Homo sapiens: one gene and its partners. The protein of the gene in region 2 purifies or fractionates together with the protein of the main gene of each other region. This does not show direct contact. Each region holds a gene or a part of one and is shown on either strand. Other genes may lie near its edges.

Region 1 (3,650 bases), on a different chromosome or scaffold from region 2:
GACCTTATATAGCTCAAAGACTACCATTAGTGATGAAAAATTTTCTTTTAACTCCCATATCTCTATCAGGTGAAGTAAAAGGTAGGTGATAGTAGTTACTGGCAGTCTAGAATGGAAGTGAGTTAATGTAATATCCAGCATTTTTATCAAATAATACTCACCAACATCACCTTAACTACCTGAACAGCATCTACCAATGATACCCACAGGTGTCCTGGAGATCTTGAAATCATCTCAGGTAGAGGAAGCTTTCAGAACCACAGAGCTTAGTTACATTTTCTTTCAAAAGGCCAAATTCTCCAAAAACGTCCTATGCAAACATCCTCGATTTCTTCCATAGGTTTTATGATAAGATCTGTAGAATGCAAAATATTGGATTAGACATTAAGCAGTATCCAAGTCATGTATAATCCTATGAGCAGAATGTCCTTTTGTTTCCTTCATGTTGGGGATAAAATTTTTTATTAGTATTGCCATATCATTTTATTCATTCATGATTAAGTCAATAAAAATTTCAGCTGGGGCCATGGTTGGCCAGGTGTGGTGGCTTATGCCTGTAATCTCAGCACTTTGGGAGGCTGAGGTGAGTGGATCACTTGAGGCCAGGAGTTCGAGACCAGCCTGGCTAACATGGTAAAACCCTGTCTCTACTAAATAATACAAAAATTAGCCAGGCGTGGTGGCGCATGCCTTTAGCCCCAGCTACTAGGGAGGCTGAGGCAGGAGAATCACTTGAACCCTGGAGACAGACGTTGCAGTGAGCTGAGATCATGCCACTGCACTCCAGCCTGGGCAACAGAGTGAGATTGTGTCTCGAAAAAAAAAAAAAAATTCCACTGGCTGGGCACAGTGGCTCACGCCTGTAATTCCAGCACTTTGGGAGGCCGAGGTGGGAAGATCACGAGGTCAGGAGATTGAGACCATCCTGGCTAACACGGTGAAACCCCGTCTCTACTAAAAATACAAAAAAAAAAAAAAAAAAGCTGGGCATAGTGGCGTGCGCCTGTAATCCCAGCTACTTGGGAGGGTGAGGCAGGAGAATCACTTGAACCCGGGAGGCAGAGGTTGCAGTAAGCCGAGATTGCACCACTGCACTCCAGCCTGGGTGACAGAGCGAGACTGTCGCAAAAAAAAAAAAAAAAAAAAAAAAATTCCAAAACTCTTCCCACTTTGTGACGTGCAGTTCTCCAGGCACTGGAGCTATAACTGAACAAACAGCCTGAGTCCCTTCCCTCACACAGTTTAAATCCTAGTGGACAGAAGGCAGACCCTAAACCAATATTTAATGTGTCATTTTTTATCTTTTTTCTACATGAGCAACCCAAATACACCCGTTTAGTGCCAGAAATCTCTTTGTGTTTTCACCTCGTTCTGGTTCCTGGTTCTGCCAGTGACAGATGTACAGGGATGCAGCTTCTTCAGGGTTCTGAGATGCTTTCAGTGGGAAAGGGGCGCTTGGATCTACAATAGATAATAGAATTTTCTGTGTTTCTGCTCCCAAAGATGATCCTGCCAGGTACTAAGCTAGTAAATGAACACGCTGAGTTTCTCCTTGCAAATTTAAATAAGTCTTCTGCTTGCTTTTATCATCAAAAAGTCCTAACTCTATACCAAAATATGAGTTTTCTAATTTGCCATACCATAGAAGAAGGGTGTGTATGCAGTAAGTACAAAAGGAAAATAAATGTCTTCCTTTCAGTGAAAGAGCTCTTAGACCCACTGCTTTTTATTCACTGTGCTGCTTGAAGTGAGGTTAGAAAAGGAAAGCTCACTGGGCTAAGAGTCAGGAGACCCAGGTCTAGTCCTGCTTGTGCCGGTCACTATATGGGTGACTTTGGGAAAGTCATTTGCCTCTCCAGAGTTCATTCTCCTCAATTATAAATGAAAATGTTACAACTGAAAATTTATATATTATCAGCTCTAGTATGTTTCTAGTATTGCATTCGTTTCTCCACTTCGTAACTTTCATGGTTTTTCCAGTGGTCAGATTTGGGCAGAAAGCACTGATTCAAGAACACAGATTTCCAAGTAGAGAGGTGCAGGGTAAATAAACCTCCATGTAAGCCCGCGGTGAGCGCAGACTGTGAGTGACGAACACGGTGTCAGTGTAAGCTGGAGGTGGTGGGCCAGGAGGATTAAACAGGGTAAGGCAGCTTACCACTGTGCCTGGCGATGCGCAGAGTAAGTGCTCAGTAAACGGTAGCTGCTGTTATTAGCACTGTTATTATCATTGTCAGCAAAGAACACCTAGACAGCCTTGAGCACTGGAAGGCACCTCAGAGACTGTCACAGGGGTTCCTTGCTAGGATTCCAAGGACCCCAGTTTCAGCAGCTTCACGAACACCCTGAATTGCACACAGATGGCGTGTGTGTGCACATCCTATATTTCTTACACCTTTCAGTAGAGAGGGTCCCTAGTTTCCTTGGCTTCCTCAGAGAAAATGTAACAAATGAGCACAGTGCCTGGTCCAGAGGGTGGCCTACCTTAGGGCCAGGTGTGCTGACGGAGGTACCTTGAGCTGATACTCATTTCCCTCCCTCCTCAGAACTGTCTTCTCAACCACCTTCTCTCTCCTACAAAGATATGCCAAGTGCTCTTTAGGGACAGTACCAACACTTGACAAATTCAGCTCAGCATGAATGTCATTGAGCCCATGCCCCGTACCAAGGCCCAGGCTAGCGAGTGTAAGGAGTACAAAAACAAGTGGGTGTGGTCGCTGCCCTTGGGACTCACATTCTAGTGGAGAAGTCAAACAGACCCAGCTCAGATACAGAGCGGCGCAGGGCAGAGTGCTGAGTCTAGGATTACAGTGCAGGCTCATGGAAGGAGGTGGAATTTGTGCTGGGCCTATGTCAGAAACTCACAAGCAGGGAGAAGCACGTGGGGAGGTCAGCAGTCCAGGCAGAGGCAGGAGCATCATGTCAGCAGATCGGTGGGAAATCTGGTGGGACTGGAGTCTCTGGAGTGGAGACAGGGAGGAAACAGTGAAAGGAAGATCAGAGACAAGAGGGTAGGGCAGAGCTGTGGCTAGCTTCTGAATACTGAACCTGAGAGGTTTGAGTTTATCAGGTAAAGGAGGAGGACCCTTCACAGATGCTGTTCAGAGTCGTGGGATCCCGCTGGGAAGTGTGGCTGAGCTTTGCTGTGTTGTTCATCCACTTCTGTTTTCTGACTTGGTGTTAGCCACATTTTTTTATGGTAAAATTCAAAAACATAAAATTTACCATTTCAACCATTTTTACAGTGGCATTATCTAACATTCACAGTGTTATGCAACCATCACCACCATCTATCTATATAACTGTTTTAATCTTGCAAAACTAAAACTCTGTATCCATTAAACACCAACTCCCCAGCTCCCCTCCCAGCCCCGGACAACCACCATTCTACTCTCTGTTTCTGTGACTCTGACCAGTCTAGGTACCTCATGTGAGTGGAACCATGCAGCATTTTTCTTTGTGGCTGGCTTCATTCACTTAGGAAATGTCCTCAAGCTTCATGCATGTTGTAGCATGTGATGTGATTCCCTTCCTTTTCAAGGCTGACTATTCCATTGTGTAGCTAGACCACAGTTGGGTTATCCACTCATCTGCTCATGGGTGCCTGGCTTACTTCCACCTTTTAGCTATTGTGAATAATGCTGCAGTGA
Region 2 (3,465 bases):
GGACAATACCAGGCTGGGTGGTCCCACCAGGGCCTGCGTGTGGCCCAGGCCCGAGGGCGCTGCGACTCCGGGTTCTCAGATTCCAAGAGTCTTTTAGACACAACTGGCAGCCAGAGAGAAGGCCTGAGCAGGGGTCCCACCAATGCCCCGGCAGAGCCACTCCAGGCCGCGGAGCATCTGCCCCACCCACGAGGCTCCCAGTTCCTGAGCCCCTCTCTCTCCAGGCCACCTGCCCCCTCTGAGGGAAACCAACAGGCCACCCTCCTCCCCTCCCATCCCCGCGGGCCTCACAGATGGCTGCAGGTCCGCAGAGCCCTGTGCCTCCAGCAAGGCCAGTGAGGTGGTGATGCCCCACCCTGCCCGAGCCAGGGCCAGCCCTGCAGGAAACAAGGACAAGCCTCAGCCCACCCCGCAGAGCAAGGAGAAGACTCAGGCTGGGGAGGGGCCGGGGCACTCTGGTCTGAACGGGGAGTCGGGAGTCTGAAACCAGAACACCAAGGCAGAGAGAAAACAGGGGGGTGAGTGACCCGCCCCTGCAGCCTGGAGGTGGCCCCGAAACCTTGCACAGAGGGCAGCTCATGTTCTCATTGGCTCGAGGGCAAAACTGTGAGTTATCTTTGGAAAAAGGGGCTACCTTCCCCCTCACTCAGAGCACAGGGCAGCTTGCTTGCCCCACGAGTCCCCTCTCATCCCCGAGGCGGCTGAGGTCTTTGCTGATGACACACCAGCTTGCGCCCCCAGCTGTCCCCTCCTGATTAGGGGGAAGCTGTCACGGGCTGGCTGGGCACCAGTATTCAGAGCAGATGAAGATGTCACTCCAGACAGGAGGGCCACACAGGAATTCTGAAAACCAGCATCGATAAACAGCAACGGAAACAAAAGCCCCGTTCCCAACTCCTGCAGCTCCAGGGCTGGGGCCCGAAGACCCTGTAGTCGCCCAAGCCCCGTGGGGTGTGGCAGGGTGTCCTGAGAGCCCGGTGGGGAGGCGCCTGGCTGGGCTCACGCTAGTTCTTGCCACGAAGGCTGCTGCCTCAGGAAAGCCACTGCCCTGGGCCACAGACAAGTAGTAACAGAAATAAGGAGGGTGACAACACATCTCTTAGGCAGAGCAGTGACAGGCTGTGCCCCAAAGTCCAAACAGGCCAGGCAGAGAAGGGCAGGGACAGGGCTCAGGCTGAGAAGAACAGCTGGCGTCCAGGCAGGGTGGCCAGAACGGGTGGGCACAAAGGATGGGCCCGCAGGCCTAAGTCATTTGGTGCGGCGCCTCCAGCATCTCCATAAGGAAGGTGTCAATGGGTGTGTCCCCGATGAGCTTGAAGAAGAAGAGATGTTCCAGGCATTTGAGCCCGATGGAGCGCAGAGCCGGCAGGCGGAGCAAGAGCTTAGCGAACCTGCAGGGAACAGGTCTGGTGAGGGCCGGGCAAGGGGCATGGGCAGTTCTGCCCTGGCACTGGAGGCCTCCCTGGGGATGGGGCTGTGTCTGATACCCCAACCCCTCTGAGGCTGGTCTGTAGCCCTGAATCTGCCTATGCCAAGCCTCCAGAAGGAAGGAGGGGAGGCTAGAAGGAAACAGAGGCAGTGGCAACCCAGAGCCAGGACAGAGTGAAGGGAGATCCCTGGGTCTGAGGACGGAGATGAAGGGCCAGGGGCCAGACAGCAGCTGGCTAGGGCAGACTGAATAGCTCTTTGTGAAGAAGTTAAAAATTGCAGGCAGTTGGGCATGATGGCTCACACTTGTAATCTCAGCACTTTGAGAGGCCGAGGTGGGAGGATGGCTTGAGGCCAGGAGTTCGAGACCAGCCTGGGCAACGCAGTGAGACCCTGTCTCTACAAAAGAAAAAGAGAAAAACAGTAGCAAGGCGTGGTGGTGCATGCCTGCAGGGAGGACCGCTTGAGCCCAGGAGGTTGAGGCTGCAATGAGCTACGATCGCAGCACTGCACTCCAGCCTGGGCGACACAGCCAGACTGTCTCTCAAAAAATGAAAAACTGTGGGCCATGACAGCCGGGAGCGGGTGTGAGTATCAGTAATGCATCTGGCTGCAGCAGCCATCACAGCAAGAGACTGCGGGGCTTGTAAGGGAAAGGGCTGCTGAGCACACTGGTGAGTCGCAGGGAACAGGCCCGGCACATGGTGGGCAACCAAGAAGTCAAAGAGCATCAGGCGGGGGAGGGGGAGTCAGGCTGCACCCCCACTGCAGGTGGAGCCAGGCCTGACTTGGGAGCTGTGTAACGGTGCAAGACCCTTTCCATAAAGCATCAGCACCCCATGAGTGCCTCCCACGGCACCTTGTGCAGGGCTGTGGGCCCCAGACCAGGGCCACCCCTTCCTCAGAAATAGCTCTGCTGGCATTGGGCACAGCATGGTCAGAGAAGGCTGGCCGGGGAGGGAGGGAGCACGGGTTGGTCCTCAGGGCCTGGCCCATCCCTGGGGAGTTTCCTGGGGCAGGGACCAGTGGGGGGGCGGGAGGGAGGGGGGAAGTCTGGGGCTCTGGGAAGAGGGATAGCAGGGCCAGGCATGAGGGCAGCAGCTGCCGCTGAGGACAGGGTGCTATGGGGACGGAACCAGGTGTCCCTTCCGGCTGGCCGTGTCTGCCCAGGGCCCCTGTGCACGGCCTGAGTCTCTCCACACGGCCCCTCCAGGGGCTGCAGGACCTCATTAATTATTAACGAAGTCTTTCTTTCAGGGAAAAGCTCTGTGGTTGGCTGCCTCACAGGCCTTGTTTTAAAGGCAAAAACAGCGCAGAGGCTGGAGTTGGGCCAGAGAACAAGCTGTTTTCTGCTGAGCTGGCGAGATGGGCCAGGGCAGAAAGCCAGGAAAAACAAGCTGCCTGCCACCCCCTCCTGTCCTCGTCCTCCGGGAAGTTTCACTTTAAACCAAGCCAGATGAGGGCTGGGCAGGCAGCGGGGACACGGTTAACTGTGTATGTGCTGGTGGCGGGAAGGCCTGGGTGTCCTATGAGGTCTGCTGGGCCCCACCTCCCCCGACCCCCTCCCCGCCCCACAGTCTGAGGATCAAGAGGCCAGGAGATGCCCCTTTAGAGAGAAGAGGCAGAATCTGGAGCGCTGACTTTGAATCCCAGGCAGGGATCCACAAACGTTTCTCTTCCTGGACACCTACTGTGCACCCAGCACTGTGGACTCAGAAATGAGGGAGCCCCAGCCCTTCCAGGGCCCACAGCCGGGCAGGGGGGAAACATGAGCGCTACGCTCAGGCCGTGACCGCCTATTCCGTACACACTTGTAGAGAGTGTTTAGTATGTGTGGGCATCTGGCCATCCATTCTACACATGCTTGTGAAGTACCTACTATGTGCTGGTGTCGCCTGGCCTCTGGTGGTTCTGCTTGGTAGGGGAGCGCAGTGGGGGGTGAAGCACAGCCTTCATCTATCTACTGAACAAAGAGAAGCACCTACTATGCGCCAGGTGCAAGGTAATCCTTCCAGTGGGGATACGACGTGGGCCTGT
Region 3 (3,650 bases), on a different chromosome or scaffold from region 2:
GAAAAAGAGCCTGGCACGCCCACTTGCCTCTGCTCCCACCCTGTGGTCTCTGCACGTGCCAGCTCCCCTTTGCTTTCCACCGTGAGGGGAAATAGCCTGAAGCCCTCACTGGATGCCCAATCCTGAACTTTCCCAACCAGCAGAACCATGAGCCAAATAAACCTCATTTCTTTATAAATTACCCAGCCTCAGATATTCCTTTTTGGCAACACAAAAATGGACTAAGAGAACTAGAGTAGCTGATAGAATTTTTTAAAAGAAGGGTAAAGTTGGAGGAACTATACTACTTGATTTTGAAGCTACAGTAATCAGGACAATGTGGTGAAGGGACAGACACGTAAGTCAATGGAATGGAGACGAGAGATTTCTACAAATATGGTCAATGGGTTTTTTTTAACAAAGGTACAAAAATCAATTTAATGGAGAAAAGACAGTCTTTTCAGCAAATGTTACTGGAATAGTTGTCATCCATATCTAAAAAACAACACCTCAACCTCACATCTCATACACAGCTGAACTTAAAATTGATCATAGATCTAAGTGTGTGAAATGTAAAACTATAAACCTCCTTGAAAAAATCATAGAAAATCTTCATCACCTGGACTTGGGCAAAGACTTTTTACTCTAAAAGCGTGATCCATAGCAGAAAATGTTGATAAATTGAATTTCATCAAAACTAAAAATGACTGCTCTGCAAAAGGATGATGCTAAGAGAATAAAAAAGACAAGCTAAGATTAGGAGAAAATATTGCAAAGAACATATCCAGTGTGTGTTCTGAATATACAGAGAAATCTCAAAACTCAACAGGAAGAAAACAAGCCAATTGAAAATGGGCAAAATACTTGAACAGACACTTTACCAAAGTGGATATACAGATATCAAATACACACATGAAAAGATGTTCAGCATAGCCATCAGGGAAATGCACATTAAAGCCACAGTGAGATATCACTTACACCCATTGAAAAATGACTACAATAAAAAAAAAATCTGATAGTAATACCAACTGTCATCGAGGATGAGGAACAGCTGAAAGTCATGCATTGCTGGAGGGAACATGCCACTGTGGAAACAGGTGGGTGCTTTCTTATAGACTTGTATGTGCACTCACCTTATGCCCAGGAGTCCCTCTCCTGTGTGTTCAACCCAGAGATATGCAAGCTGTGTTCACACAAAAACCTGTATGTGAATGATTATACTAGCTCTCTTTATAATTGCAAAAAAAAAAAAAACAAAACCTGGAAACAACCCAAGTGTCCTTCATCTGGATAATCCTTAAGGATAAACTGGTGCGTCCACACAGTGGAATACCACTGAGCAGTGAAGAGGAGCCAGTTATTGAAACAGGTAATTTGGAGGAACCCCAGAAACGGTACAGTGAGTGAAAGAAACTTGTCTTGAAAGGTTATGTACTGTTTGGTTCCATTTGTATGATATTCTCAAAAAGACACAAGACCATGGGGATGGAGACCAGATCGGTGGCTGGAGAGGCTGGGGTCGGGGAGGGCATGACCACCAGAGAAAAGGGTGAAGAGTGTTTTGGGTGGCAGAGCTGTGTGTATGCTGGCTGTGGTTGTGAGGACAAAATCCACACAAGCGCTCAAGTTCGTAGGCTGTACGCCAGAAAAGCTGTTTCACTACATAACTGAAAAAATAAGATTGAAAAATAAGATGTATATATTTTTTGTGTGCGTGTGTAGAAAAATACTTGAAGGTAAACTGCAGAGTGATAACAGTGGTTCCTTCTAGGTACTGGGTTAATATGTGATTTTTATGTTTGTTTGAGCTTTTCTAAGTTTTCTACATTTTCCGTACAAAACATGTATTACTTCTGTAATAAAAGCAGCTTGAGATTATTTAAGGAAGCAAAACACTTCTGTTGTTTCTCATCAACTACAGGATGAAGTGCAGGCTCCCTGGGTGGTTTGCAGGGGCCACAGGCCTTGGCCCCACCTCGCTGGTGCTCCCTCTACTCCTTTCTGTGTTTGAAGCAAGTTCTGGTTCAGACAGAAAGCCTGGCCTTTGAGGGCGTTGGGTCCCCACTTCCTCAGTCATAGATGTGATGTGCTTCCCTTGACTTGGGACCTTCTGAGGGATGCAAGGTGGACCAAAGGACCCGTGAATGGCCAGGGCATGCCTGCGTGGCTTTCGGTTTCTTAAGCAGTGATTTCAGTCCACTTAAAGGGTGTGAAAATTCTGAGAATGCTACGGACCAAATATATTTTATGTAACAGTTGGGACCCGGCAACACTTCAGGGCTCTTTCAAAATCTGGTAGCTACGAGCTCTTCCGTGACTGAGATGGGACAAGAGTGAAGATTTGTCCTTGCTTTTAGCTCTGCTCCAGTTCATAGTTCTAATGGGAAATTATGTGACTTAAACCCAGGCTGTGAGATGCATCAGTGACGTGTGGGCATAAAATAAACCCTCGAGATGTTCTCTTGCATGGTACACTGGCCTAGGCAGGAATATTCTTGAGGCTAAAACTGTAGAACTGTCAGACTAGTGTTACGAATGTGGTGGTGAGAGGCCTGTGCAGCCGCGGGGCCTGTGATGTGTCTCCTGTGTGTCTTTCACTCCTATGCAGTTTGAGTTCATGATCGAGTCCATCCTGTATGCCCGGGATGCCTGGCTGAAGGAGGACGGGGTCATTTGGCCCACCATGGCTGCGTTGCACCTTGTGCCCTGCAGTGCTGATAAGGATTATCGTAGCAAGGTGCTCTTCTGGGACAACGCGTACGAGTTCAACCTCAGCGCTCTGAAGTAAGTGTCCACAGCTGGGACTGGCACCGTCTTGTGGGGCCTCCTGGTCCACAGTCTGCAGGTGGGCCAAGGCCCTGGGAGATCCCATACGACGGTTGGATAAATGAGGGTACCTGTGCACCCAGATAGGACAATCTGTTGTAGCATTGGAGTAATTAAAGCAGTATGGTGCTATAACAAGACAGATGGGCAGAGCAGGGTAGAATGCAAGGAACAAAAATTTTCGTATGTGAAAAAGGTGGCATTACGATTAGGAGGGAGTGAGGGCCAAGTCAGCAAATTATTCTGGAGCAGTTGATTAGCCCTTGTTCTCTCACGCCATACGTGAAAACTTAATTCTGCATGGAATCAGCGTCAGCGACAGACATCCATGGGGGCCTGTGTGCACCATCTTAGGTGGAGAAATGAGCAGCAACAATGGATGGAATGGACCCTGGGCTAGATAGAATCTGGCAGTCTATGTGGCAGAAATCAGCAAAAACACGATTGTAAAAGCAAACAAGTAATTAGAGAAATCACGTGCTGTCAGGTCTTGGAATCAATTAGAAAGAGATGACTAGCCAGATGGAATTGCAGCCCAATCATGTGAACAGGCAAACCGCAAAAAATAAATAAAATTACCAATAAATATATGAAAAATTATAATGTTGTTAGTAGTTAAAATGCGAATTAAAATACATGCTGTTTTCCCTACCAGACAAGCAAAGAGTAAATTAAAATAGTAGCCCAGGCTTGCCTGGCAGTGGCAGGGAGGTGTGGCTGCCAGGGCCTTAGAGGTTGGCATCAGGCTGCCCACCCCAGTCACTGCCAGAGCCTCCCACCTGAGTGTTCCTCCCGGCACTGGAAGCCAGTGGCCGTCCAGAGGAACGTGATTGAATTGCTGTATA

Evidence for each region.
Region 1: the proteins of RXRA (region 2) and RIPK1 fractionate together in Homo sapiens (co-fractionation; one large-scale study listed by BioGRID). This does not show direct contact.
Region 3: the proteins of RXRA (region 2) and PRMT2 purify together in Homo sapiens (pull-down; one study listed by IntAct). This does not show direct contact.

The regions. Positions count from the first base shown.
Region 1 is NC_000006.12:3,106,437-3,110,086, forward strand, and holds part of RIPK1 (receptor-interacting serine/threonine-protein kinase 1), read left to right. Parts: exon of another isoform or gene 1-355; intron 356-1,365; exon of another isoform or gene 1,366-1,461; intron 1,462-2,865; exon of another isoform or gene 2,866-2,960; intron 2,961-3,650. UniProt on the Homo sapiens protein: Serine-threonine kinase which is a key regulator of TNF-mediated apoptosis, necroptosis and inflammatory pathways.
Region 2 is NC_000009.12:134,434,393-134,437,857, reverse strand, and holds part of RXRA (retinoic acid receptor RXR-alpha), read right to left. Parts: intron 1,392-3,465; coding exon 1,244-1,391; 3' UTR 1-1,243. UniProt on the Homo sapiens protein: Receptor for retinoic acid that acts as a transcription factor.
Region 3 is NC_000021.9:46,656,158-46,659,807, forward strand, and holds part of PRMT2 (protein arginine N-methyltransferase 2), read left to right. Parts: intron 1-2,587; coding exon 2,588-2,763; coding exon of another isoform or gene 2,764-2,767; exon of another isoform or gene 2,768-3,650. UniProt on the Homo sapiens protein: Arginine methyltransferase that methylates the guanidino nitrogens of arginyl residues in proteins such as STAT3, FBL, histone H4. Acts as a coactivator (with NCOA2) of the androgen receptor (AR)-mediated transactivation.